Homo sapiens: one gene and its partners. The protein of the gene in region 6 purifies or fractionates together with the protein of the main gene of each other region. This does not show direct contact. Each region holds a gene or a part of one and is shown on either strand. Other genes may lie near its edges. The genes, in order: ELOVL2, ALG8, MCUR1, QNG1, LMBRD2, NTSR1 and TMEM161B.

Region 1 (3,500 bases), on a different chromosome or scaffold from region 6:
ACGGATGAAAGCTATAACAGAGAAGAGGCCTCAGGTGGATGTAGATTTTAAATTGCTCTCTTTTGTAGGCTGGGGAAATGGAAAGCTTAGTTTAAAAAACAAAGTACATTTATATTCAAAACTATACTTTTGAAATTGTATTCAACTGTATTTTTTTCAGACTAATAAGAAGTGCTTTACTTTTTAGTTTGCACTTGCTGAAAGTTAACCCATAGTGGTTTTTATTTTTATTTATTTTTTTGAAACAGAGTTTTGCTCTTATTGCCCAGGCTGGAGTGCAATGGCGCAGTCTCGGCTCAACACAACCTCTGCTTCCTGGGTTCAAGTGATTCTCCTGCCTCAGCCTCCCAAGTAGCTGGGATTACAGGCGTGTGCCACCACGCCTGGCTAATCTTGTATTTTTAGTAGAGATGGGGTTTCTCCATGTTGTTCAGGCTGGTCTTGAACTCCTGACCTCAGGTGATCCGCCCACCTTGGCCTCCCAGAGTGCTGGGATTACAGGTGTGAACCACCACACACATCCCCATAGTGGTTTTATACAGTGTGGAACAGTGGAAACTGAATTTTGACAGCTTTTCAGGTCTTGTATTTCTGAAATTGGACTAGGCTGTTTTAAGAGATAAAGGTTTCCTTTGAAGATTTCCAAAGAAATAATCAATGATGAGACCAAACAAAGCTATGTGTGGGTGTGCAAACCCCTGCCCCCAACTTCCCAATAAACGCTAAGTGTTAAAGGGAAGCTAAGGGAGTGATTTTGGTACCTCGTGTTGAAGAGAAGCGTATAGCCCAGCAAGAGTAGGTAATGGCATTCAAAGCCTTAGCCCTACATGCTGGTTCAAACTGCATCTTAGTTCTGAAGTCAAGCATATAATTTAAGTTTGGATCCTTGTTAATACTATTGCTTTAAAAAAAAAAAAAGTGAAAATGAGATGCGAGATCAGGTATTTTGTCAGAATAGGAAGGATATGCCAAAAACTAGATCAAGCCAGAATCCCAGGTATTGGTATTTTAAAATAACAGCACTTTTTCCACTTGAATTATTTTTAAAAGTTTTATCTTTCCAAGTGAGCAACTAATGCAGAATACTTTGCCAGCCCCACAATATACAAATCGTGACCTCTAATAGTCATTGAAATACATGCATTTGTTTTGGTCTTTATTTTTAATCTTTAACCAGAAGTTTAAAAATGATACTATAAACATGAAATCTAGGCAGAAATAAAGAAAGATGTTCTTTGAAACCAATAAGAACAAAGATACAACATACCAGAATCTTTGGGACACATTCAAAGCAGTGTGTAGAGGGAAATTTATAGTACTAAATGCCCACAAGAGAAAGCAGGAAAGATCCAAAATTGACACCCTAACATCACAATGAAAAGAACTAGAAGAGCAAGAGCAAACACATTCAAAAGCTAGCAGAAGGCAAGAAATAACTAAAATCAGAGCAGAACTGAAGGAAATAGAGACACAAAAAACCCTTCAAAAAATCAATGAATCCAGGAGCTGGTTTTTTGAAAGGATCAACAAAATTGATAGACTGCTAGCAAGACTAATAAAGAAGAAAAGAGAGAAGAATCAAATAGATGCAATAAAAAATGATAAAGGGATATCACCACCGATCCCACAGAAATACAAACTACCATCAGAGAATACTACAAACACCTCTATGCAAATAAACTGGAAAATCTAGAAGAAATGGATGAATTCCTCGACACATACACCCTCCCAAGACTAAACCAGGAAGAAGCTGAATCTCTGAATAGACCAGTAACAGGCTCTGAAATTGTGGAAATAATCAATAGCTTACCAACCAAAAAGAGTCCAGGACCAGATGGATTCACAGCCGAATTCTACCAGAGGTACAAGGAGGAACTGGTACCATTCCTTCTGAAACCATTCCAATCAACAGAAAAAGAGGGAATCCTCCCTAACTCATTTTATGAGGCCAGCATCATCATGATACCAAAGCCAGGCAGAGACACAACCAAAAAAGAGAATTTTAGACCAATATCCTTGATGAACATTGATGCAAAAATCCTCAATAAAATACTGGCAAACCGAATCCAGCAGCACATCAAAAAGCTTATCCACCATGACCAAGTGGGCTTCATCCCTGGGATGCAAGGCTGGTTCAATATATGCAAATCAATAAATGTAATCCAGCATATAAACAGAACCAAAGACAAAAACCACATGATTATCTCAATAGATGCAGAAAAGGCCTTTGACAAAATTCAACAACCCTTCATGCTAAAAACTCTCAGTAAATTAGGTATTGATGGGACGTATCTCAAAATAATAAGAGCTGTCTATGACAAACCCACAGCCAATATCATACTGAATGGGCAAAAACTGGAAGCATTCCCTTTGAAAACTGGCACAAGACAGGGATGCCCTCTCTCACCACTCTTATTCAACACAGTGTTGGAAGTTCTGGCCAGGGCAATTAGGCAGGAGAAGGAAATAAAGGGTATTCAATTAGGAAAAGAGGAAGTCAAACTGTCCCTGTTTGCAGGTGACATGATTGTATATCTAGAAAACCCCATGTCTCAGCCCAAAATCTCCTTAAGCTGATAAGCAACTTCAGCAAAGTCTCAGGATACAAAATCAATGTACAAAAAATCACAAGCATTCTTATACACCAATAACAGACAAACAGAGAGCCAAATCATGAGTGAACTCCCATTCACAATTGCTTCAAAGAGAATAAGATACCTAGGAATCCAACTTACAAGGGATGTGAAGGACCTCTTCAAGGAGAACTACAAAACACTGCTCAATGAAATAAAAAAGGATACAAACAAATGGAAGAACATTCCATGCTCATGGGTAGGAAGAATCAATATCGTGAAAATGGCCATACTGCCCAAGGTAATTTATAGATTCAATGCCATCCCCATCAAGCTACCAATGACTTTCTTCACAGAATTGGAAAAAACTACTTTAAAGTTCATATGGCACCAAAAAAGAGCCTGCATCGCCAAGTCAATCCTAAGCCAAAAGAACAAAGTTGGAGGCATCACGCTACCTGACTTCAAACTATACTACAAGGCTACAGTAACCAAAACAGCATGGTACTGTTACCAAAACAGAGATATAGATCAATGGAACAGAACAGAGCCCTCAGAAATAATGCTGCGTATCTACAACTATCTGATCTTTGACAAACCTGAGAAAAACAAGCAATGGGGAAAGGATTCCCTATTTAATAAATGGTGCTGGGAAAACTGGCTAGCCATATGTAGAAAGCTGAAACTGGATCCTTCCTTACACCTTATACAAAAATTACTTCAAGATGGATTAAAGACTTAAACGTTAGACCTAAAACCATAAAAACCTAGGCATTACCATTCAGGACATAGGCATGGGCAAGGACTTCATGTCCAAAACACCAAAAGCAATGGCAACAAAAGCCAAAATTGACAAATGGGATCTAATTAAACTAAAGAACTTCTGCACAGCAAAAGAAACGACCATCAGAGTGAACAGGCAACCTA
Region 2 (4,044 bases), on a different chromosome or scaffold from region 6:
AGGGAGGTGACACTGTCACCTACTTGCTGTGCATCTTTCAGCAAGATAATTAACTGATCTGACACATTATTGAGCATTTATTCTGTCCTGGAATCATATCAAGCAATTTACATGCATTCTCATTTAATCCTCACAACCAGTTTATGAGGCTGAAACTTTTTTTTTTTTAGACCAAAAGCATCTTGGATAAACAGGCCTGAGGCTTGCCCAGGCTGAAGTGCAATGGCGCGATCTCAGCTCACTGCAACCTCCGCCTCCCACGTTCACGCGATTCTCTAGCTTCAGCCTCCCGAGTAGGTGGAATTACAAGCGCCCGCCACCATGCACGGCTAATTTTTTTTTAATTTTTAGTAGAGACAGGGTTTCACCATATTGGCCAGGCTGATCTCAAACTCCTGAACTCAGGTGATTCGCCCACCTCGGCCTCCCAGTGTTGGGATTACAGGCGTGAGCCACCGCGTCCGGCCAGAAACCATTTTTATCTCCTATTTTCAAAAATAAATAAATAAATAAAAATTTTAAAAAAAGAAACTGAGGTTTAGAGTTTAGTTTGTCCAAGATCATACAGTAAAATAATGAGACAAGCCTAATTAAATTGCATGTGCCTCAGTCATTACGCAATCTGCGAGTTTGTTGGGCCTACTGAATCAGAATCCGAATTATTTTAACATGAACCGTAGGCTATTTGTACACTAAGCGTTAGGACTAGCCTCTACCCTGCTTCCAGAATGGGTTCCGCTCAAGCAGGAGGTGAGCCAAGAGCCTCGCTCAGAGTTCTAAAAACACAATGTTTCTCACCTCTGTATCTTTGCACATGCCATTCTCTAGCTGGATTTAATACTCCGGTGCAAGCGTCCAGGTTGGGAGCCCCCGCAGTTCTCTGAGGTACTTTTATCTACTGTAACTCTAGGGCAACAATCCTGGCTTCTCCACTAGTGCGTGAACGTCTCTAGCGTTAAGTTTTTTTCTCACCTAAGTATCCCCAATACTACACAGTGATGACCCAGCGCAAACGACCACTCTTTCAACGCAAGCATGAACTAGCTGATAAAACTTAAAAGTGGCTACAAACGCCTGCGCAGGAGCCCTTCCGGCCCGGGGTGAGACGCGGGTCTAAAGAAAAGGTGGGCGGGAGGTTTAAATAGCTGACTGCAGTCCCCGGACTGGCTGCGCCGCTCGCCGCATGCGCGCAGCTAGCGGGCACGGCTTCAGAGGGCTTTCTCCGCATGCGCGGGATCCCGGATGTGGATCAAGTTGGTGGGAAGCGTGCGGTGCCGCAGCAATGGCGGCGCTCACAATTGCCACGGGTACTGGCAATTGGTTTTCGGCTTTGGCGCTCGGGGTGACTCTTCTCAAATGCCTTCTCATCCCCACATAGTAAGGGACTCGCACGGCCAGGGGCTGGGCGGGGAGGCCCCGCGGTCGGTCAGGGCGGGAGAGAAAGGTGTGGATATCCCTGGGTATGAAGAGAAAACTTTAGGTCGTGTTTGTCGCTATCCTGCCTTTGCTAAGCTTTCTGTTTCGCCAGTTGTTACTTGACTTAGCCCCAGCTGGCTAGGTTCAGACCTGGCGCTGTCTGATTTGGAACAAATCACTTTAACGTTTCTGAACCTCAGGGTCCTCATCCTTAATAGGCAGTTAAGAACCTCTGCCTCCAACAGCCATTCAGCCAGTATTATCAGATGCCTGAGGTGCCAGGTACCGTTCTAACTCCCGGGAGATGCGGTGGTGAGCAAGACATTGCTGGTCCTTGCCCTCGAAGTTGGTGGGTGGAGCTAGACAAACAGGAACTTTTCAGATTGTGATAAAGGAAATAGAGGGTTACTAAGTGGCTGTGCGCTATTCCTTTAGAAGGTGATGTTTGAGTTGAAATTCAAAAAATGAAAAAGAATAAGTGATGTGGAAAGCAGTTCAGGCATAGGAAAGAGTAAGTTCAAAGGCCCTGTGGCAGGAAAGAAGTCAGAGCATTCTAGGAACAGAAAGTGCCCCTTGTGGCTGCAGAGCATTGAGGGAGAGGAGTGGCACAGCATGGGGTGCACTGGGGACAGATAACACAGGGTTTCGAAGACCACAGTTAGACTGCTGTGTAAAAAATGGATGTAGGGCCAAGACTGAAAGCGTGGAAACCAAGAAGCAACCATGAAATGGTGGTGTGTATACAGTAGGTACTCAGTATTTATTAATATTGGCTTCCGCCTTCCCTTCATCCTTCCTCTTTTTTCTTTTTCTCCCTCATCCCTTTTCTCCTTTCCCTCCCACTTCCTAGTTTAGGGTTTGTTTTATTGGTATCCTTTGATTCAGGCTCTTGGTGATCTCTTGTTGAATATGGGAGAGTCATATGTATAGAATGTAAGTCCATACTGATGCGTATATGTAATCATGTAAGTGGAATGTATATGTAGATTCAGTAAAATGATTAACTGTAGGTCTGTGCATAAGATTATTTCTTGCTTTAGTTGCCTCAGGCTAGAAATGTATCCTCAGAGTTGTTTTTTTTGTTTGTTATTTTTTTTTTTTTTGAGACAGTCTCGTCCCACTCTGTCACCCAGGCTGGAGTACAGTGGCACGATCTCAGCTTACTGCAACCTCTGCCTCCCGGGTTCAAACGATTCTCCTGCCTCAGCCTCCGGAGTAGCTGGGATTACAGGCTTGCACCACCGCGCCAGGCTAATTTTTGTATTTTTAGTAGAGATGGGGTTTCACCATGATGGCGGAGGGCTGATCTCAAATCTCCTGACCTCAAGTGATCCACCTGCCTCGGCCTCCCATAATGTTGGGATTACAGGCATGAGCCACCGTGCCTGGCCAGAGTTGTTATTTTGAATACTGCTCTTGGTCCAGGTTAAGAATGTATATAGCGCTCACTTTGGCAGCACATGTACAGGAATACCTCATTTTTTGTACTTTGCTTTATTGCACTTCACAGATACTGCATTTTCATTTTTTTTACAAATTGAAGGCTGCGGTAACTCTCCATTGAGCAACTCTATCAATGCCATTTTTCTAACATCATGTGCTCATTTTGTGTCTGTGTTACATTTTGGTAAATCTTGAAATATTTCACACTTTTTCATTGCTATTATATTTGTTATGATCTGTAATCAGTGATCTTTGATACTACTATTCTGATTGCTTTGGGGCAACACTATGGTGAACTTAATAAATGCTGTGTGTTCTGACTGCTCTATCAACCAGCTGTTCCATCATCTCTCTCCCTCTCCTCAGGCCTTGCTGTTGACTGAGATACAATAATAAAGTTAGGCCAATTAATAGCCCTACAGTGGCATCTAAGTGTTCAAGTGAGAGGAAGAGTCACATATCTCTGACTTTAAATCAAAAGCTAGAAATGATTGAGCTTGATGAGGAAGGCATCCTGAAAGCCAAGACGGGCTGAAAGCTAGGCCCATTGTGCCAAACAGCCAAGTTGTGAGTGCAGAGGAAAAGTTCTTGAAGGAAACTAAAAGTGCTACTCCAGTGAATACACAAGTGATAAGAAAGTGAAACAACCTTGATGATATGGAGAATGTTTTAGTGGTCTGGATAGATCAAACCAGCCATAACATTCCCTTAAGCCAAAACCTTATCCAGAGCAAGGCCCTAAGTCTTCAATTCTTTGAAGCCTAAGAGAGGTGAGGAAGTTGCAGAAGAAAATTTGGAAGCTAGCAGAGGTTCTTTTAAGAAAAGAAGCCATCGGCCGGACGCGGTGGCTCATGCCTGTGATCCCAGCACTTCGGTAGGCCAAGACGGGCGGATCACCTGAGGACCAACATGGAGAAATCTCGTCTCTACTAAAAATACAAAATTAGCTGGGCGTGGTGGAGCATGCCTGTGATCCCAGGTACTTGGGAGGCTGAGGCAGGAGAATCACTTGAACCCGGGAGGTGGAGGTTGCAGTGAGCTGAGATCGCGCTATTGCACTCCAGCCTGGGCAACAAGAGTGAAACTCTGTCTCAAAAAAAAAAAAAGGAAGAAAAGAAGCCATCTCCATAATAAAGTACAAGGTGAAGCAGCAAGTGCTGATGTAGAAGCTGCAGTAAGTTTTCT
Region 3 (3,500 bases), on a different chromosome or scaffold from region 6:
GTTCACACCTTAGCCTCCCGAGTAGCTGGGACTACAGGCGCCCGCCACCACGCCCGCCTAATGTTTTAATTTTTTAGTAGAGACGGGGTTTCACCGTGTTGGCCAGGCTGGTCTCGAACTCCTGACCTCAGGTAATCCACCTGCCTCAGCCTCCCAAAGTGCTGGAATTACAGGTGTGAGCCACCGCACCCAGCCAACAATCTGGTATTCTTAAGGCAAAACAGTAGAAATCACTTTAAATAGACACTTTATTAGATCCACAGGCGATAAAATCCCAGAGCTACTGTTAGGCACGTAAATATAGACCCTGTAAGAAAAAAACAATTGAGAGTACTATTAGTTCTATTAAGAGTTACTTGAGGGAACATCTTTTTTTAAGAAAACCTAAAAAAGAAAACCTAGAAACTTAGATTGCTCACTGATGTCCCATATTCCGTGAAACGCCTGCCTACTGAAAAAACAAATCCCACACCCTTTATTTTATTTTCTTATTTTAGAGACATGGTCTCATCTGGTACCCAGGAGGAGTGCACCATGCAATGGTATGATTACAGCTCACTGTGCCTCAAACTCCCGGGCTCAAGTGACCCTCCTGCCTCAGCCTCCCAAGAAGCTGAAGCTACAGGCAGATGACACCATGCCCGGCTAAATCTTTTTGTAGAGACTAGGTCTCGCTGTGTTGCCTAGGCTAAGAAAACTTTTCAATAAAAGTTTCGAATAGCAAAAATTCTGTGGTCACAAGGTCTATGTATATGCACTATAGAGACAGGAAGACACAATTTAATATAAAGAACAACATTTCACTGTTAAATAATGCTGTAACCTTAAAATATTTAATTAATCCAAGACGTTAAATCTGACTTGAAATAATGGTTAATTTGGGTGGGGGGTGGTACATGAATGTTCATTCTCTCTTTTGGATCAAAAATCGCGAAAGTAAAATAACTCCTTAAAAGGAGTTTAAGCAATTGAAGCAGAAAGATTACAACTGAAACACCTTCCATTTTATCCATAAAATATTTCCTGTCTTGAATCTCATTAAAATCCCTAATAACTATAGTTCAATTATAGTATCTTATCAAATTTCCAATTCTATCAATTATAACGTACACAATTACTTTATTTACTACTAAGAAAGAAAAAGTGCCAATTAAACTATGATACTTCATCTACTGGAAATTGTAAGATGCTTTCCAATTTCAGAGATGTTAAAATATTTCAGAAAGTGTTGGAATCAATGAAATGCAGTATCTGTCAACGACTTATTTTATAAATTTATTTTCTTTTCAGGTTGATTTAAATAGATACAAAATAGCTTACCTGCTAAATATTTAATATTATCAAGCTTGTGTGACTCAAGCATGGTTTTGAGGCCAGCAACCTCAGTTTCGATCTTCCTGTCTGTCTGGGTAAGGGCCCGATCTTGCTGGGCATGCTTTTAAAATGAAGAGAGTCACAGCGTTAGACCACAGCACGTCCCCTCTGCTCACCATCCTATAGCTCCTTCCCAACGGGGTGCAGTCACAGGGAAACCTGGGTAAGACTATGGAGGCCTGGGCTTTAGTCTCAGTTCTAAAACCCTAATTCTACGCTGCATTGGTCAGGACCCTTAACCTCTCTAGGCCTTAGTTTTCTTCTATTTGAAAAAATGAAAACAGAACAAAACGAAACAACCAAGCCAGTGGCCCTGCCTTTACCTGGACTGTTTAGAGAATCAAATGCGATAATCTATGTGAAAAAGCATTTGTAAGCTCTAGGTTGCTATACAAATGATGTGGTATTATGAGGCCAGTCTGTTCTCAAAGGCAACGGCTACGTCTCATCCTTCTAAATCCTCCTTAGTCAAAGATAGACAGTAAACTCAAAAATGTTTTCAAGAAATGGAGTCTTAGATAATGTGAAAGCGGCAGTGCTTGTCTTGAGCTATTTCTAGTCATATTTTTAAAAAACTTTCTTCTTTCATGTTCAAATATCAAGTGTTTCATTACTATGAGGCTTGGCTACCCACGGCCAATTTGTGTCCTTCCCCAAATACAATACAGTTAAACTGGACACATAATCAACCCTCAAAAAGGCAGTGGGTTTGGCCGACGCTATAGGGGGTTGTAGAACTGCATTAAAGCATAAAAACCATGGGAATCCTTCACTAAAACTCCTACAGCAACTAAATCTTTCCCTATGGCTACCAATTCAGGCAGAGAAAAAAAGAAATAAATGCCTGGATGCGTAAAAAAGTATTCCAGAGAAATATCCCAGGATTCTGGAATTCTCTCATGAAAGCCTCTTGGGGGTTTCAGAGGTCCCAGGTTCCATACAGTATGGAAAAGGAGAAATGTATGCTATAAATTAAAAATAGAATAAGACTTCTCCATTCCTCACTATTCTTCAATTACTGAGATTTAAACTTTCTTAATAAAACTTCCGTTAAGAAAAACAAACTCTCAAGTAGGGCATGGTGGTGTGAGCCTGTGGTCCCAGCTACTCTACAGGCTGAGGTGAAGGAGGGTGCAGTGAGCTGAGATTGAGCCACTGCACTCCAGCCTGGGTGACAGAGCGAGACCCCACCTCAAAAAAAAAAAAAAAAAAAAAGAAAGAAGAAAAGGAAACTTTCATTAAGAAAGTTTAAATCTTTCATAGGATAACTATCTTCCATTACGATAACCAAACACTTTGTGAAGTGCAAAAAATCCTGTGACACTCCACTTCTGCATATATACCCAAAAGAACTGAAAGCAGGGATCCCAACAGACATCTGTGCACCCATGCCCACAGCAGCACTATTCACAAAGGCCAACGGGTGGAAGCAACACAAGTGCCCTTGACAGACGAATAAAGAAAATGTGGCATATACATATAATGGAATACTAATCAGCCTTAAAAAGGAAGAAAGTCCTGTCATTTCAACAACATGGATGAACCTTCAGGACACTGTGTTAAGTGAAATAAGCCAGCCACAAAAAGACAAATGCTATGATTCTATTTATATGAGGTATGTAGAATAGTCAAATCCATAGACAGTAGAATGGAGGTCACCAGAGGCTGGAAAAGGGAATGTATAAAGGGTGCAGAGTTTCAATTTTGCAAAATAAAGAGTTCTGTGATAGCCAGTGGCGATGGTTGCCCCAAAATGTGAATGTACTTTAAATGTACTGAACTGTACACTTAAAAAATGGTTAAGATCCTAATTTTTATGTTGTGTGTATTTTAGCACAATGTAAAAAATTCCCATGACAGTAAACCTGCATGTAACTTCCTATTATCATTACAAACAACCATGCATGGAACGAAGCAAAGATGAGTACAAAGACAAAGAAAAATCACAGTCTTGTTTCTTACCAATGCCACTATTTCTGTTCTCAATTCCAGCAGCTTCTTTTCGTTCAATGAATACTGAAATAAACACGTAACATGGGTCAGATTCTGATCTACTCCTCTCTCTTCTCCTTCTCTGGTGCCTTAAATATTCTGGTCTCAGTACCTCCTAGAATACGTAACACCAG
Region 4 (3,500 bases), on a different chromosome or scaffold from region 6:
GAGGTTGCAGTGAGCCGAGATTACGCCACCGCACTCCAGCCTGGGTGACAGAGCTGGACTCCATCTCAAAAAAATAAAAGAAAAAATAAAAGAAATTGGCTTGGCGTGGTGGCTCACACCTGTAATCCCAGCACTTTGGGGGGCCAAGGCGGGTAGATCACAAGGTCAGGAGTTCAAGACCAGCCTGGCCAACGTGGTGAAACCCCGTCTCTACTAAAAATATAAAAATTAGCCGGGTGTGGTGGTGGGTGCCTGTAATCCCAGCTACTCAGGAGGCTGAGGCAGGAGAACCACTTGAACCCAGGAGCTGAAGGTTGCAGTGAGCTGAGATCATGCCACTGCACTCCAGCCTGGACGACAAGAGCAAGACTCTATCTCAAGAAAAAAAAAAAAAAAGAATTCAATTGTATTAGTGTGTTCTCACACTGCTATAAAGAACTGCATTTCATTTATAGCACAGTGCTTTGGTTTTGCTTTGCTGAAAAGTTCAATTTTTAAAAAATGTACCAGAAAGTGGCAGTATCTTGGCTCACTACAACCTCCACCTCCTGGGTTCAAATGATTCTCCTGCCTCAGTCTCCCAAGTAGCTGGGATTACAGGCATCCGCCACCATGCCCAGCTAATTTTGTATTTTTAGTAGAAACAGGGTTTCACCATGTTGGCCAGGCTGGTCTTGAACTCCTGACCTCAAGTGATCTGCCTACCTCAGCTTCCCAAAGTGCTGGGATTACAGGCTTGAGCCACCATGCCCAGCCAATCTGATACTTTTTTTTTTTTTTTTTGAGACAGAGTCTCACTCTGTCACCCAGGCTGTAGTGCGGTGACACCATCTCTGCTCACTGCAACCTCCGCCTCCCAGGTTCAAGCGGTTCTCTGCCTCCGAGTAGCTGGGATTCCAGGCACCCACTACCACGCACAGCTAATTTTTGTTTTTTTTTTTTTTTTTTCAGACGGAGTCTTGCTCTGTCACCCAGGCTGGAGTGCAGTGGCGCGATCTCAGCTCACTGCAAGCTCCGCCTCCTGGGTTGACGCCATTCTCCTGCCTCAGCCTCCCTCGTAGCTGGGACTACAGGTGCCCGCCACCACGCGCGGCTAATTTTTTTGTATTTTTAGTAGAGACAGGGTTTCACCGTGTTAGCCAGGATGGTCTTGATCTCCTGACCTGGTGATCCGCCCGCCTCAGCCTCAAAAGTGCTGGGATTACAGGCGTGAGCCACCGCACCTGGCCTAATTTTTGTATTTTTAGTAGAGACAGGGTTTCACCATATTGGCCAGGCTGATCTTGAACTCCTGACCCTGTGATCCACCCACCTTGGCCTCCCAAAGTTCTGGGATTACAGGCGTGAGCCACAGCGCCTGACCTAATCTGATACATTTTTAAATGAAAATTGGTACAGAAACCATTTCTCATGAGTACTTGTTTCTAACATACAGTTTTACAGAAAAATCCCCAAAATGGGCCAGGCATGGTGGCTCAAGCCCATAATCCCAACACATTGGGTGGCTGAGGTAAGAGGATTGCTTGAGCCCAGGAGGTCGAGACCAGCCTGGACAACACGTGAGACTCCATTTCTACAAAAAATTTAAAAACTAGCCAGGCGTGGTGGCATGCCTGTGGTTCTAGCTACTCAGGAGGCTGAGGCAGGAGGATCGCTTGAGCCCAGGAGGTGGAGGCTGCAGTGAGCTCTGATAGTTCCACTTTACTCCAGCCTGGAAGAGCAAGACCTTGTCCCCAAAAAAATAAATAAATAAAAATAAACAATTTGCACAAACTAGTCATGTGTTTTTAACGTATACCTATTTACTGAGATTATCATTCATTTTTAGACATGAACAGATTAATAAAGTTAACAATTTTTAATTTAGATAGATTTAGATCAGTGATTTCCCAACCTGGCTGTGCCCCAGAATCACTTAGGAGGCTTAATTCAGATATATTTCCAAAACACCACCCTCAAAGAGCCTGATGAATAGGTGAAAGAAGAGCTATTTTTTAAGCTCTTCAAGTTACTCTGATTTAGAGTAATGCAGTAACTTTGTAAAAGTTCTAATTAGCAAATTGGCTTTCTTATGACTATTACTGTTACTGTGACATACTGATAAATATAAAAAACATAAGCTTTTTGATATTTCAATAGATAACATTTTATTTTTTATTTTTAGTTTTTTTGTTGTTGTTTTTTGAGACAGAGTCTCGCTGTCACCCAGGCTGCAGTGCAATGGCGCAATCTCGGCTCACTGCAACCTCTGCCTCCCGGGTTCTAGTGATTCTCCTGCCTCAGCCTCCTGAGTTAGCTGGGATTAGAGGTGCGCACCACCACGCCAGGCTAATTTTTGTATATTAGTAGAGATGGGGTTTTACCATGTTGGCCAGGCTGGTCTCGAACTCCTGACCTCAGGTGATCCACCCGCCTTGGCCTCCCAAAGTGTTGGGATTACAGGCGTGAGCCACCATGCCAGCCTTTGTTTTTTGTTTTTTGTTTTTTGAGATGGAGTCTTGCTGGCGTGCAATGGCACAATCTCAGTTCACTGCAACCTCCGCCTCCCAAGTTGAAGCGATTCTCCCACCTCAGCTCCCGAGTAGCTGGGATTACAGGCACCCGCCATCATGCCTGGTCAATTTTTATATTTTTGTAGAGGCAGGGTTTCACCATGTTGACCAGGCTGGTCTTGAACTCCTGACTTCGGGTGATCTGCCCACCTCGGCCTCCCTCCCAAAGTGCTGGGATTACAGGCATGAGCTACCGCACTTGGCCTATGTTGTTCTTAACTTTTGTAATCCTTGAACTTTCTATTTATTCATGATAAAATTATGGAATAATTTTTTCAAAAAACTTAACTGTCCAGGTGCGATGGCTCTTTCCTGTAATCCTAGAACCTTGGGAGGCCAAGGTGGGTGGATCACTTGAGCCCAGGAGTTCAAGACCAGCCTAGGCAACATGGGGAAACCTCATCTCTGCAAAATAACAAGAAAATTAACTGGCCTTGGTGGTGAACACCTATAGTCCCAGCTATTCAGGAGGCTGAGGTGGGAGGATTGCTTGAGCCCAAGGAGGTCAAGGCAGCAGTGAGCCGTGATTGAGCCACTGAATTGAGCTACAGCCTAGGCAGCAGTGAGGCCCTGTCTCAAAAAAAAAAAAAAAAAGAAAAGAAAAGAAAAAAATTAACTCATGGTCATAGAGCTTTTTATTGACAATTATTTTATAAAGGTACGATTTAGAAAATATTTAAATCACAAAACAATATCATGAAACATGTAAGCAATTGTTATTTGGAGATTTACTAGTAGTTTTAGTGATACCAGTTAATATTTTAGAGATCCAGAATTTGATTACAAAAATCATTTGATTTCTAAAACCATAATGAGCTTACCAAGAAAATGTTTTATAGAGATGGCCAGGCGTGGTGGCTCATACCTGTAATCCTTGCACTTTGGGAGGCCGAGGCAGGTGGATCACAAGGTCAGGAGTTCAAGACCAGCCTGGCACACGTGGTGAAA
Region 5 (3,500 bases), on a different chromosome or scaffold from region 6:
GGGCCAGTGAGATAGGAAAATTAGGACAATGAAGTGTTTTGAGGAAAAGAGTATATAAAGTACCTTTTCAAATGTTGCACATAGATTAAGGATCATATATATTAAGACCTGACCATTGGATTTTAGAGAAGTGAGGGGAGAGGATAAAAAAGTCTGACTGTAATTTAAAAGAAATAAGAAGAGGAGCAATTGGAGACAGACTAGAAAACTCTAAAAATGTTTTCCTTATAAAAGGGAACAGAGAAAAGGGGTAGTAGCTGAAAGAGGATTGGGGGCATAGTCAAGAGAAATTATCACATGTAATTAGTAAATGATATAATAGAATTTGAGGCCAGGCGCGGTGGCTCACACCTGTAATCCCAGCACTTTGGGAGGCCGAGGCGGGCAGATCACAAGGTCAAGAGATTGAGACCATCCTGGCCAACATGGTGAAACCCCGTCTCTACTAAAAATACAAAAATTAGCTGGGCGTGGTGGTGCGTGCCTGTAGTCCCAGCTACTCGGGAGGCTGAGGCAGGAGAATCACTTGAACAGGAGGCGGAGGTTGCAGTGAGCCGAGATTGTGCCACTGCACTCCAGCCTACCTGTAGTCCCAGCTACTCGGGAGGCTGAGGCAGGAGAATCACTTGAACCCAGGAGGTGGAGGTTGCAGTGAGCCGAGATTGCGCCACTGCACTCCAGCCTACCTGTAGTCCCAGCTACTTGGGAGACTGAGGCAGGAGAATCGCTTGAACCCGGGAGGCAGAGGTTGCAGTGAGCCAAGATTGCACCACTACACTCCAGCCTGGGGACAGAATGAGACTCCGTCAAAAAAAAAAAAGAAATAAAGAGAGAGAGAGATGAAAGAAAAGAAAGACAAAAAGAAAGAAAGAGAGAAAGAAAGAAAGAGAAAGAAAAGAAAAAATTCATAGAATTTGATAAGACAATAGAGAATTTCTAAGACAATGTTCATGACTAGTAGAGATGAGATGGTGGGAAATAGTGAACAATGAAGAGAATGGTGGAGGTAAGGCACAGATGTAACTAGCTGAGAAGGTGTAGTGTTAGAAACTTGGGAAAATTCTCTGATCGCTTCTGTTTTCTCAATGAAATGTGGAGAGTAAGTATAGGAGAGGAGATTTTAGAGATTTGAGGAGGGAAGAGAAGGTGCAAAATAGTTGCCTAGGAGAGTGGCATGGGAGAAGATTGGGGAATTATAGTAGGCTAGTGAGGCAGTACTGAGGACCCACTTGAAGCTAGTGATTAAGAATTTAAAGTGAGGCCAGTCAACAAGGTGGGGTGTCTTTCTCCTGCAATGTGCAGCTGTGTGGATGCAGGCTGAGAGTAGCCAGCGAGTTGGATTTAAACAGGTGTGATTTAGCTTAGCAGGTACAGTGGAGCAAAATGGGGCAAAGTAAGTGGGATACTGTCCTCAAAGACTGGAATCTGAGCTGCATGAGGAAGGAAGGGTATCAAAGTGTTAAATAACGGTAAAATGTGATAGAATAAATTGATTTTTCATCCAGGTATGGTCAGTTAGTGGAGTTGAAATACTGTACTAGATGAAGGTATTGTTTGAAGACAAGGATGCTGGAATGTGATTATATGGAAGGGCTGGAGATATTGATAATAAAAGGTTTAGGCATCACTATAGCAACAAGTAATTGAGGTAGGGTGGAGGGAAAGTTCATTAGAGGAGAGGAGGTCAAAGAAATGAGAGATAAGGGTATTGAAAGGGGAATCATTTATGTGGATATTGAAATCACTAGGAATTATGAGAGGAAAGTTGTAAAGAATTACAGTGAACCAGAAGCTAACTATTCAGTAAATGAACTAAAAATATAGCTTTTTAATTTATTGAGCTTTCTTTTTTAAATTTTTATTTATACCTAAATTCAGACTTAAAACCAAAATAGTGCTGGGAGTGGTGCCTCACACCTGTAACCCCAACACTTTGTGAGGCCGAGGTGGGTGGATCATGGGGTCAGGAGATTGAGACCATCCTGGCTAACACGGTGAAACCCTGTCTCTACTAAAAATACAAAAAATTAGCTGGGCATGGTGGCACGTGTCTAATAAAAATACAGAAAATTAGATGGGAGTGGTGGCACACGCCTGTAATTCCAGTTACTTGGGAGGCTGAGGCAGGAGAATCACTTAAACCCCGGAGGCAGAGGTTGCAGTGAGCCGAGATCATGCCACTGCACTCCAGCCTGGGCGACAGAGCGAGACTCCATCTCAAAAAAAAAAAAACAAAAAACCAAAACAGTACAAAATATTCCCATATACCCTTCAACCAGGCTCTCCAATGTTAATATTTTGCCATATTGATTTGCTTTTTCTGTATGTATTTTTTTATTACTATTTTAGAGTTGTATCCAGACATGATGCCTCCTTGTTCCTAAATGTTTCCGTGTATATTTTCTAAAAATAAAGATATTTTCTTACATAGCCAAATACAGCCATCAAAATAAAAAAATTAATATTTATACTCTACCATTATTTACAGACCTTATTCAGATTTTGCTATAATTATCCCAATAATATTTTTTGTAAAAAATCCCAGATCATGCATCGCATTCAGTTGTTGTGTCTCCTTAGTTTCCTCTAATCTGACACAGTTTCTCAGTCTTTGTGTTTTATGATATATCAGAAATGTTTTGGGGAGTATAGGCCAGTTTTTTGTTGAATGTCCCTGAATTTGACTTTGATGTTTCTTTAAAATTAGACGCAAGTTCTGCATTTTTCACAGGACTACCACAGCAGCAATGTCACATTCCTATCAGTACATCATAGCAGGAGGCACATGATGTCAGTTTGTCCCATCATGGGTGTCATTTGGTTAGGTTCGTATCTGCCTGGATTCTCCACTGTAAAATTGCTGTTTTTCTCTTTGTAATTAAGTATCTTATTAGGAGCTATTTTGAAACAATGTAAATATCCCATTACTCTTTTGTAGTTTTCCTAATCATTTTTTTCTTTTGTCTTCTAGAATGGTACTGGGAATGTCTTTTGCGACCATGGTTTTACAAGATACTTGCTGTGGTTCTGTCCATCTTCTCTGTGATTGTTGTGTGGTCAGAGTGCACATTCTTTAGCACTACTCCTGTCTTATCCCTCTTTGCGGTCTTCATACAGCTGGCAGAAAAAACATATAATTATATTTATATCGAGGTCAGTTTATTTTATGTCTGTCATAAATAGATGTCACTTCATAGTATAATCCTTAACTATTTTCTCCATGTATTTCTTCTAGTAAAAATGAAAGCAGTGAGGTTTTCTGCAGTGTTGTTATTCAAACTTCCAGAAATGTGCTTCATTATTTTACCCACACTATAGAAATTAATAACTGTATTTGAGGAGAGATGAAAAGTTGCAAGATAGTGCAGAAATCTGAGATTTTTTTTTTCTTTCTGTTTTTTTTGGAGGCAGAATCTTGCTCTGTCACCCAGGCTGGAGTGTGGTGGCATGAACATGGCTCACTGCAGCCTCAACTTCCCGGGCTCAAGAAATCCTCTCAC
Region 6 (4,239 bases):
ACCCCCGCCCCAGCCTGCCCAGGTTTCCTGCTCCCAGCACAGCAGGTGCAGCCAGCCATGTGCACAAAGGCCAGGCTGGTTCCCTGGGCTGCACTCGAGCAGCTCCTCCCAGCCCTGCACACATGGGGCAGCAGCTCTACCCAACCTCTCCCAGGGGTTCTGGGGAGGAGGGAGCAGGGGAGGGGGCGGGGAGGGCCCAGAGAAGGGACAGTAGTGCCCTGGGGGCCCCTGGGCAACCCAGACATGGAGGGGGGGGCAAGCTTGTGCCTGGCCACCTATGCCAGTGCCACCAGGTGCTGGGGGGGACACGGAAAGGACAGGAATCTTGCCCTCACCTGGCTCCCGAGCCAGGGGCCGGGGCACCCTGTGAGGACACTCAGAGGGAGGGAGTGTGCAAAGCCTGCAGGGCCTGGGAGGATGCGTGCTGGGGCTGCCTCTCCCAAATCCTGCTGGGGCGCAGGCTCTCAGGGTGGCTTCTGATGACAAATCCAGGCAGTAATAAGGGGCCCAGGGCATCACATCCCATAGCGTCATGAGACCAGCCCAGGGTGCCAGATGCAGGGCCCTGAGTGGGGAGGGTGCTGCTCTGGGCACCTGCTTTCTGCCCTCCCTCATTCACCCCTCCCCAGACTTTGATGAAACCATCTGTGGCTCCCGGCCTCTGCAGGACCCAGCCCCTCAGCTCCTCAGCCCCTGCAGGTGTCCCTCGGTACTGCCTCACGCCATCCTGCCCCAGGTGATAACTATGCCCTGAGCCCCCACCATTTCCACTGGGCACATCCCAGAAATACGCATTCACAGACCAGGCACGCCCATGACTGCGGCCAGATTTTAAAAGGAATCACCAGAAATGTAATCTCCAGTGGTCCTAGAGCCCCCTGGGCACCCAGCTTCTGGCACCCTGTGGACACCCAGGAGTGGGGGTCGGCCCAACCAGCTGCGCAGCCGCCCAGCCCTGCCAGCGGGGAGCTTCCTCCCTCCCTGCCCTCCGGATACACCCTCACCCCAACTGAGCGAGCCCAGGGTTGGGGGAGGTGCATAGTTCCCTTCCTAGCCGGTGCGAGAAATTGCGGAGAACAGGGAAGAGGGTGGCAGGAAGGGTCTGGTGCACGATACCCGCCGCGCCCGCTCGGAATCCTGGTTCCCTGGAGCGCTCACCCCAGCCCGCCCTGCCCCGGGGAGCGCGAGGGGGCGACCCGCCAGGCTGCACCCGGGCGGGGCGGGGATGGCGGCGGGGGCTGCCTCCCTCCTCCGCCGCCACCCCCCACTGCTGGGCGCGCCGCGCGGCCGCCGGCTCCGTGGAGACGCGCAGAGCCGGGAGGGCGCGGGCGCGGCGGGAGGTGTGCGGGGCTGGGGTGCGCGGAGAGCGCGAGGGAGGAGATTCTGAGCGAGGGAGGGGAGCGCGCCCGGGCAGCAGTGCGTGCGCTCCTCCCGGCGCCACAAGCTCGCCCCGCGCAGCCCGAGCCGGGCTGGGCGCTGTCCTCGGGGGCCTGGGGAACCGCGCGGTTTGGAGATCGGAGGCACCTGGAACCCGTGGCAAGCGCCGAGCCGGGAGACAGCCCGAGGAACCACGGGTTCTGGAGCTAGGAGCCGGAAGCTGGGAGTCCGGAGGAGAGCGGAGCCCGGAGCCCGGAGCCCGGGGCGGCGCGTCTGGGTCTGGCGCTTCCCGACTGGACGGCGCGCCCGCTGGTCTTCGCCACGCGCCCTCCCCTGGGCTCCCGTTCATCGGTCCCCGCCTGAGACGCGCCCACTCCTGCCCGGACTTCCAGCCCCGGAGGCGCCGGACAGAGCCGCGGACTCCAGCGCCCACCATGCGCCTCAACAGCTCCGCGCCGGGAACCCCGGGCACGCCGGCCGCCGACCCCTTCCAGCGGGCGCAGGCCGGACTGGAGGAGGCGCTGCTGGCCCCGGGCTTCGGCAACGCTTCGGGCAACGCGTCGGAGCGCGTCCTGGCGGCACCCAGCAGCGAGCTGGACGTGAACACCGACATCTACTCCAAGGTGCTGGTGACCGCCGTGTACCTGGCGCTCTTCGTGGTGGGCACGGTGGGCAACACGGTGACGGCGTTCACGCTGGCGCGGAAGAAGTCGCTGCAGAGCCTGCAGAGCACGGTGCATTACCACCTGGGCAGCCTGGCGCTGTCCGACCTGCTCACCCTGCTGCTGGCCATGCCCGTGGAGCTGTACAACTTCATCTGGGTGCACCACCCCTGGGCCTTCGGCGACGCCGGCTGCCGCGGCTACTACTTCCTGCGCGACGCCTGCACCTACGCCACGGCCCTCAACGTGGCCAGCCTGAGTGTGGAGCGCTACCTGGCCATCTGCCACCCCTTCAAGGCCAAGACCCTCATGTCCCGAAGCCGCACCAAGAAGTTCATCAGCGCCATCTGGCTCGCCTCGGCCCTGCTGGCGGTGCCTATGCTGTTCACCATGGGCGAGCAGAACCGCAGCGCCGACGGCCAGCACGCCGGCGGCCTGGTGTGCACCCCCACCATCCACACTGCCACCGTCAAGGTCGTCATACAGGTGAGCCTCAGTAACCAGCCCCGGGGCTCCCCTCTCCTTCACCCCAAAAGCAGTGCCAGTGGTGTGCCTTCTGGGTAGGGAGTGGGAGAGATGTCACAGAGACAGTCTACTCCTGCGAGGCTGGGAAGGCGGTTGGGGCAGCTTGGGGGCAGCTCCAGAGTTGCCAGGCTCAGCCCCTATCTTCTTCCCTCCTGTTGAGGGGATGGAGCCCCTGCCTGTGACCTCTCTGGTGTTGGTGGCTGGGCCTCGGACATCTCTGAATTCCTTAAGCCTAATGGAAACATGTGCGCTGGCACCTGCGTCTCCAAAGGAAGAGTAACACTTTCATCAGCTTCTCAAAAGACTGTGCCACCAACAGGTGATGTTCCTTCCTCTGCAGAGAAGCCCCCAGACTGGCTCTGCCGGTGCCTCCCAGCTGCCTGCCCTGACCCAAACTTGGGAGTCAGAACAGAACCTGATGCCGTGTTGGGCCAGTTCCTAGTTTAGCCTCAGCTTTCCCATCTGTGTGATGGGGTAGTGATAGCATTGACCTCAGAAGGTAGAGCATTGGAGAGAGGACGCGTGGGAAGTGTTTGCATGGCCCCTGACACATAGAAGGGCTCACAGGCACTATTATTGCGGGATGGTGGGGACGATGTTTCTGCGGGGAAGGTTGTGAGGATCTGCGTGTGGCGGCGGTGTTGTGGTGAGGTGTGTAAAACTGGAGCCGAGTGACTAAGGGCCCTCCAAGGGTCTGAGCAAAGCGCCGTGGGAATGCGGGTGGGAAGCCCCCTTGGGAATCAGTTTGGCTGAGGTTCGTGGCACGGGGGGTTCCAGTGCTGGAGGGGAGGGCTGATCAAACCAAAGCCCCGAGCAGGAGGCTGGTGTCCAGGGAGGAAGTCAGGGCCGGTCGGGAACTTTGAAAGGCATCTTGGAAATGAGCAGCCTTAGAAGTGTGGGGTTTCCTCCATTTCTGGTGGGCTAAGGAAGCCAGAGGGTGAAGGATCCGGGCAGAGTCGCCTACCTCTGCCCAGCTAGAGGGGCCAGGGTGGCTGGCTGTCCCCCCAACTCCCCACACACCAGCATCGCCAGCCTCCCAGCTAAGCTTCTGTAGTTGCCTGGGCACCCCGCGTATGCCAGTATGCCCGGTGGGGGTGAGGGCAGCAGTGCCGGGCAGGGGGTCACCTGTCTGTCACTCCCTGGGCCCTAACTGACCCTCCACTGGCCACCACCCAGGTGGGCTGGGGGGTGGAGGAGGGTAGAACTGAGCTCCCAGTCTCCCTGGCTGCACATAGAACTGGTGGCTACAGGTGTCCCATCTCGGGGAGGCCCCTCCCACAGACACTGGTGGCAGGCAGTGAGTCAGGGCTGCTTTGCTTCTGCGGCGAGAGTCCCTCCCCTCACCAGAGGCAGAAGTAGGCACGGCCTGTGGGGTAAACACAGTGAGAAATGACCTCTCCCTCCCTTTGAGGCTTTATCTGCTCTCCCCAAGCTCCTGTCTTTGATTGGCATTGGCCAGGGGGAACCTCTCCCCAGTCCGCGTGGAGGGGCCCCAGGGGCGACAGCCACTCAGTCCTTCAGAAGGTGGGCAGTGGAGGGGTCAGCGCTGTCACTGCCCACCCAGGAGATGCCCCCACTCAGACCCCGGATCCCCCCACTCAGACCCCCGATCCCCCCGCTCAGATCCCCGATCCCCCCGCTCAGAACCCCGATCCCCCTGCTCCCCTGGCAAAAG
Region 7 (3,500 bases), on a different chromosome or scaffold from region 6:
TACTAATTTAAAACAGCTATTTATAGTAAATACTGCTTTATTAAAAATAGAAAAGGTTAAATTTAAATAATGCTTAATTTTTCAAAAACTTACTGAGATTCTAAACCTTGCTTTTCAAGAAACTGCATCGCACTGTCTGAAAAATTTGTAAACCCTGTGGGGGAAAAAAAAAAAAACAACAGATTACTCTTATCACAAATGTGAAATACAGAATCTTTCCATGGAAATAAAATGTTAGAAAACAGAGCATCTTAAATTTTGAAGTGACTAGCTTAGCTCTTTCATGTGTTAATTAGTATGCCATAATGCAATAAAATTTGGTTATTAGCAGGAACAGTCTTTGAAAACGTCCCTTTGATATTTGTACATTCCATGAGTGTGCATAAAATTTGCATTAATTCTTCAACTATAAGAGTAAACTTTAGCATTACAGAAACTTATTTAACTGTAAGGAAAAAAACGAGACAGTATTTTTGGAAAAAAACATTAATTAAAAACTTAGCTAAAACAAAAGCAAAAAATGAAGATCTTAATAATAAAGGTTAATTATTTTGAACATTACAGAGTATACACTTTAAATTTAATTTTAGATATTTATCAGACATAAAACTTAAATACTGAAGTCAAAAATATTAACACTAGATAAAGCAAAATTGATTTTTAAAGTTGTATGAAACTATTACCTGTTTCAAGTCCAAATTCCAGATAATTTTCTGTTACAATCAACACTGCCATTGCTTTGACAAAGAAAAAAAATCCAAAGGTGACACAAACAGATCTTTCACCACCATCTTCTACTTTAAAATAGTGTGTAGTTAATGAAAATAGAACTTTGCTGCAGAAGGAAAAGTTCAGGAAAAACCACAATAAATTTATAGGAGCTATACACAATGATCTTTATAGGACTTGATTGCAATAAAATTTGACTACAACATTTATTTCCAAGTGGAGTTTAAAACACTTTTAAATTAAGGAAAAGAGCACCCATATACTAAGTTGTAGCTAGGGAATGTATTTCTAGTTTATCTCACTCAAATTTTACTAGAAGGTTATTTCAAGATTTTTATGCAGTATGTTCTCAGTGACATGAAAAGCCAGGGTAGAGGTTATTCTAGAGAACTGTCTTTATTAGGCATGTCTGTTAAACCAGTTTACATTTATAATTAAACACATAACACAGGAATCCTCCGTAATAATTCAACAAGTTAAAATTTGAGAATTTTACTAGTAGCTATTGTTGATCTGTGGTATGAAAACTAAGTGTCTGGGGTCACCACTTCACATTAGTAATAAGAAAAAATCTTTAGAGAAAACAAGTTCCAACTGAGTATTCAAAAACAGCAAAAGTTTCAACATGTTCACCTATTAAAATAGGCTGAAGAGATTATCTTATCTGAACCACCCCAACACACACAAATTGATTTAATCAAGGTTAAATCAGTGCATGGCCCAAAGATAGAACTCAGATTTCCATTATACACCAAATTGTTCTCCTTGAAATCGCAAAACAAACTAAGGTGCTTGGCAAACAAACCTAGAAAAGTAACCTTTACGTAAAGTTTATGTCAAGCATGGAAAATTAACAGCTATCACTTAGTACTTGCCATATGCCGGGCATTACCAATTAACTTTTAATTCTCACACTAACCACATTATTATTGCTACTTTACAGACATTTTAAAAAACTTAAACAAACAAACAAACAAACAAAAAACAACTGTGGGCCGGGCGCAGTGGCTCACGTCTGTAATCCCAGCACTTTGGGAGGTCTAAGCCGGCGGATCACCTGAAGTCAGGAGTATGAGACCAGCCTGGCCAACACGGCGAAACCCCGTCTCTACTTAAAATACAAAAATTGCCGGGCGTGGTGGCTCACGCCTGTGATCCCAGCACCTTGGGAGGCCGAGGCGGCTGGATCACGAGGTCAGGAGATCGAGACCATGCTGGCTAACATGATGAAACCCCGTCTCTACTAAAAATACAAAAACTAGCTGGGCATGGGGGCGGGCGCCTGTAGTCATAGCTACTAGGGAGGCTGTGGCAGCAGAATGGCGTGAACCCGGGAGGCGGAGCTTGCAGTGAGCTGAGATCGCGCCACTGCACTCCAGCCTGGGTGACACAGTGAGACTCCGTCTCCAAAAAAAAAATTAGCCGGGCATGGTGGCACACGCCTGCAATCCCAGGTACTCGGGAGGCTGAGGCAGGAGAATCGCTTGAACCTGGGAGGCGGAGGTTGCAGTGAGCCGAGATAGCACCACTGCACTCCAGTCTGGGCAACAAGAGTGAAACTCCGTCTCAGGAAAACAAAAAACAAACAACAGCAGCAACAAAAAAACAACAACTGTGGCAGAGAGGTAAAAGTAAAAATATCAAAATCACAGCTAGATTAGAGAAAGTTGAGATTTAAAACTAGACAGTCTGGATCTAGAATCTGTGCACGTAACTATTGATTACATTGCCTCTAAAACACTGTACATAGCACCTAAGTCAATGTGGTACTTTTAGCAGTAACACATAAAATCTTTTCAAAACAGAACTGCCCTGACAGAAGTAAAGAATTAAAACATTCTCATAATCAGAAGAATCCTTTCATATATATCTCACACACATAGTCTGAAGGTAATTTTATACAACATATTTAATAATTTTGTGCATGAAAAAAATTTTGACTGCATTTTAACTGCAATCTCTCACATGAGGCCCAGTGTAAAGTCTTCTACTTCTGGTGTTATGTCAGTACTGGAAAAGTTTTGGATTTTGGAGCATTTCGGATTTTGGATTGTAATGCTCAACCTGTATCAAACAATACAGGTCCATCCATCTCTTTCTTGGCATTATAAGGAAGAGCTTACATATTAGAAGAGGACAAAGAAAGATGAATATAGTCAAACTGCAAAACTACAACTGAACTGCTTTTAAGATACAGCTATGATCTCTCATAGCCTAAATGCCTTAAACTCAGGTTTGAAAAACACTGCTTTATTTTTACTGAAAATGTTTACTAGAATCTATAAGGAGACAATTTCCAACTTCTTTTCTTACACTGAAAAACAAAATAGTATCTTTGGCCAAAAGTGGTACCAAATCATCAGAATAAAATTTCCCAAAAATTACACCTACCACCACACTTTGTTATCCTAGAATAATGAAATTACAAAATATGTCAACACTAAAGGAAAACAAAATTACATGCAATCTGATCCAGACATGAAGCATGATCTTGCACTTATCACTAATACTTTACAGTCCCACACCACAAATGCCTAAAATGGTATAATCACTGCATCCTCACTTCATATTGCATACTGGATAAATCTTAAAAACCTAATTATTTATTGAGTTCCACATTAGAACACCATCTCCCAATAACCCGTATGTAATACTATGATCTGGCCACACTCACATGTTCAAGCTTTCATTCAATAGTCCCCAAATCTCCACCTCAATCAGAATAGTGTACTTGCCATCTCCTGAGTGTCATCACTACACTGTCTTGGATC

Evidence for each region.
Region 1: the proteins of NTSR1 (region 6) and ELOVL2 purify together in Homo sapiens (affinity purification with mass spectrometry; one large-scale study listed by BioGRID and IntAct). This does not show direct contact.
Region 2: the proteins of NTSR1 (region 6) and ALG8 purify together in Homo sapiens (affinity purification with mass spectrometry; one large-scale study listed by BioGRID and IntAct). This does not show direct contact.
Region 3: the proteins of NTSR1 (region 6) and MCUR1 purify together in Homo sapiens (affinity purification with mass spectrometry; one large-scale study listed by BioGRID and IntAct). This does not show direct contact.
Region 4: the proteins of NTSR1 (region 6) and QNG1 purify together in Homo sapiens (affinity purification with mass spectrometry; one large-scale study listed by BioGRID and IntAct). This does not show direct contact.
Region 5: the proteins of NTSR1 (region 6) and LMBRD2 purify together in Homo sapiens (affinity purification with mass spectrometry; one large-scale study listed by BioGRID and IntAct). This does not show direct contact.
Region 7: the proteins of NTSR1 (region 6) and TMEM161B purify together in Homo sapiens (affinity purification with mass spectrometry; one large-scale study listed by BioGRID and IntAct). This does not show direct contact.

What each region holds. Positions count from the first base shown.
Region 1 is NC_000006.12:10,985,306-10,988,805, reverse strand, and holds part of ELOVL2 (very long chain fatty acid elongase 2), read left to right. Parts: intron 1-3,500.
Region 2 is NC_000011.10:78,136,827-78,140,870, reverse strand, and holds the start of ALG8 (dolichyl pyrophosphate Glc1Man9GlcNAc2 alpha-1,3-glucosyltransferase), read left to right. Parts: upstream 1-1,244; 5' UTR 1,245-1,282; coding exon 1,283-1,377; exon of another isoform or gene 1,378-2,093; coding exon of another isoform or gene 2,094-2,161; intron 2,162-4,044.
Region 3 is NC_000006.12:13,790,558-13,794,057, forward strand, and holds part of MCUR1 (mitochondrial calcium uniporter regulator 1), read right to left. Parts: intron 3,482-3,500; exon of another isoform or gene 3,391-3,481; coding exon 3,337-3,390; intron 1,436-3,336; coding exon 1,321-1,435; intron 308-1,320; coding exon 252-307; 3' UTR 1-251. UniProt on the Homo sapiens protein: Key regulator of mitochondrial calcium uniporter (MCU) required for calcium entry into mitochondrion. Plays a direct role in uniporter-mediated calcium uptake via a direct interaction with MCU.
Region 4 is NC_000009.12:83,950,243-83,953,742, reverse strand, and holds part of QNG1 (queuosine 5'-phosphate N-glycosylase/hydrolase), read left to right. Parts: exon of another isoform or gene 1-91; intron 92-3,500.
Region 5 is NC_000005.10:36,117,388-36,120,887, reverse strand, and holds part of LMBRD2 (G-protein coupled receptor-associated protein LMBRD2), read left to right. Parts: intron 1-2,971; coding exon 2,972-3,153; intron 3,154-3,500. UniProt on the Homo sapiens protein: Recruited to ligand-activated beta-2 adrenergic receptor/ADRB2, it negatively regulates the adrenergic receptor signaling pathway. May also regulate other G-protein coupled receptors including type-1 angiotensin II receptor/AGTR1.
Region 6 is NC_000020.11:62,707,397-62,711,635, forward strand, and holds the start of NTSR1 (neurotensin receptor type 1), read left to right. Parts: upstream 1-1,439; 5' UTR 1,440-1,811; coding exon 1,812-2,525; intron 2,526-4,239. UniProt on the Homo sapiens protein: G-protein coupled receptor for the tridecapeptide neurotensin (NTS). Signaling is effected via G proteins that activate a phosphatidylinositol-calcium second messenger system.
Region 7 is NC_000005.10:88,206,346-88,209,845, forward strand, and holds part of TMEM161B (transmembrane protein 161B), read right to left. Parts: intron 836-3,500; coding exon 684-835; intron 155-683; coding exon 94-154; intron 1-93. UniProt on the Homo sapiens protein: Essential for maintaining normal cardiac rhythm in the developing heart and for neonatal survival.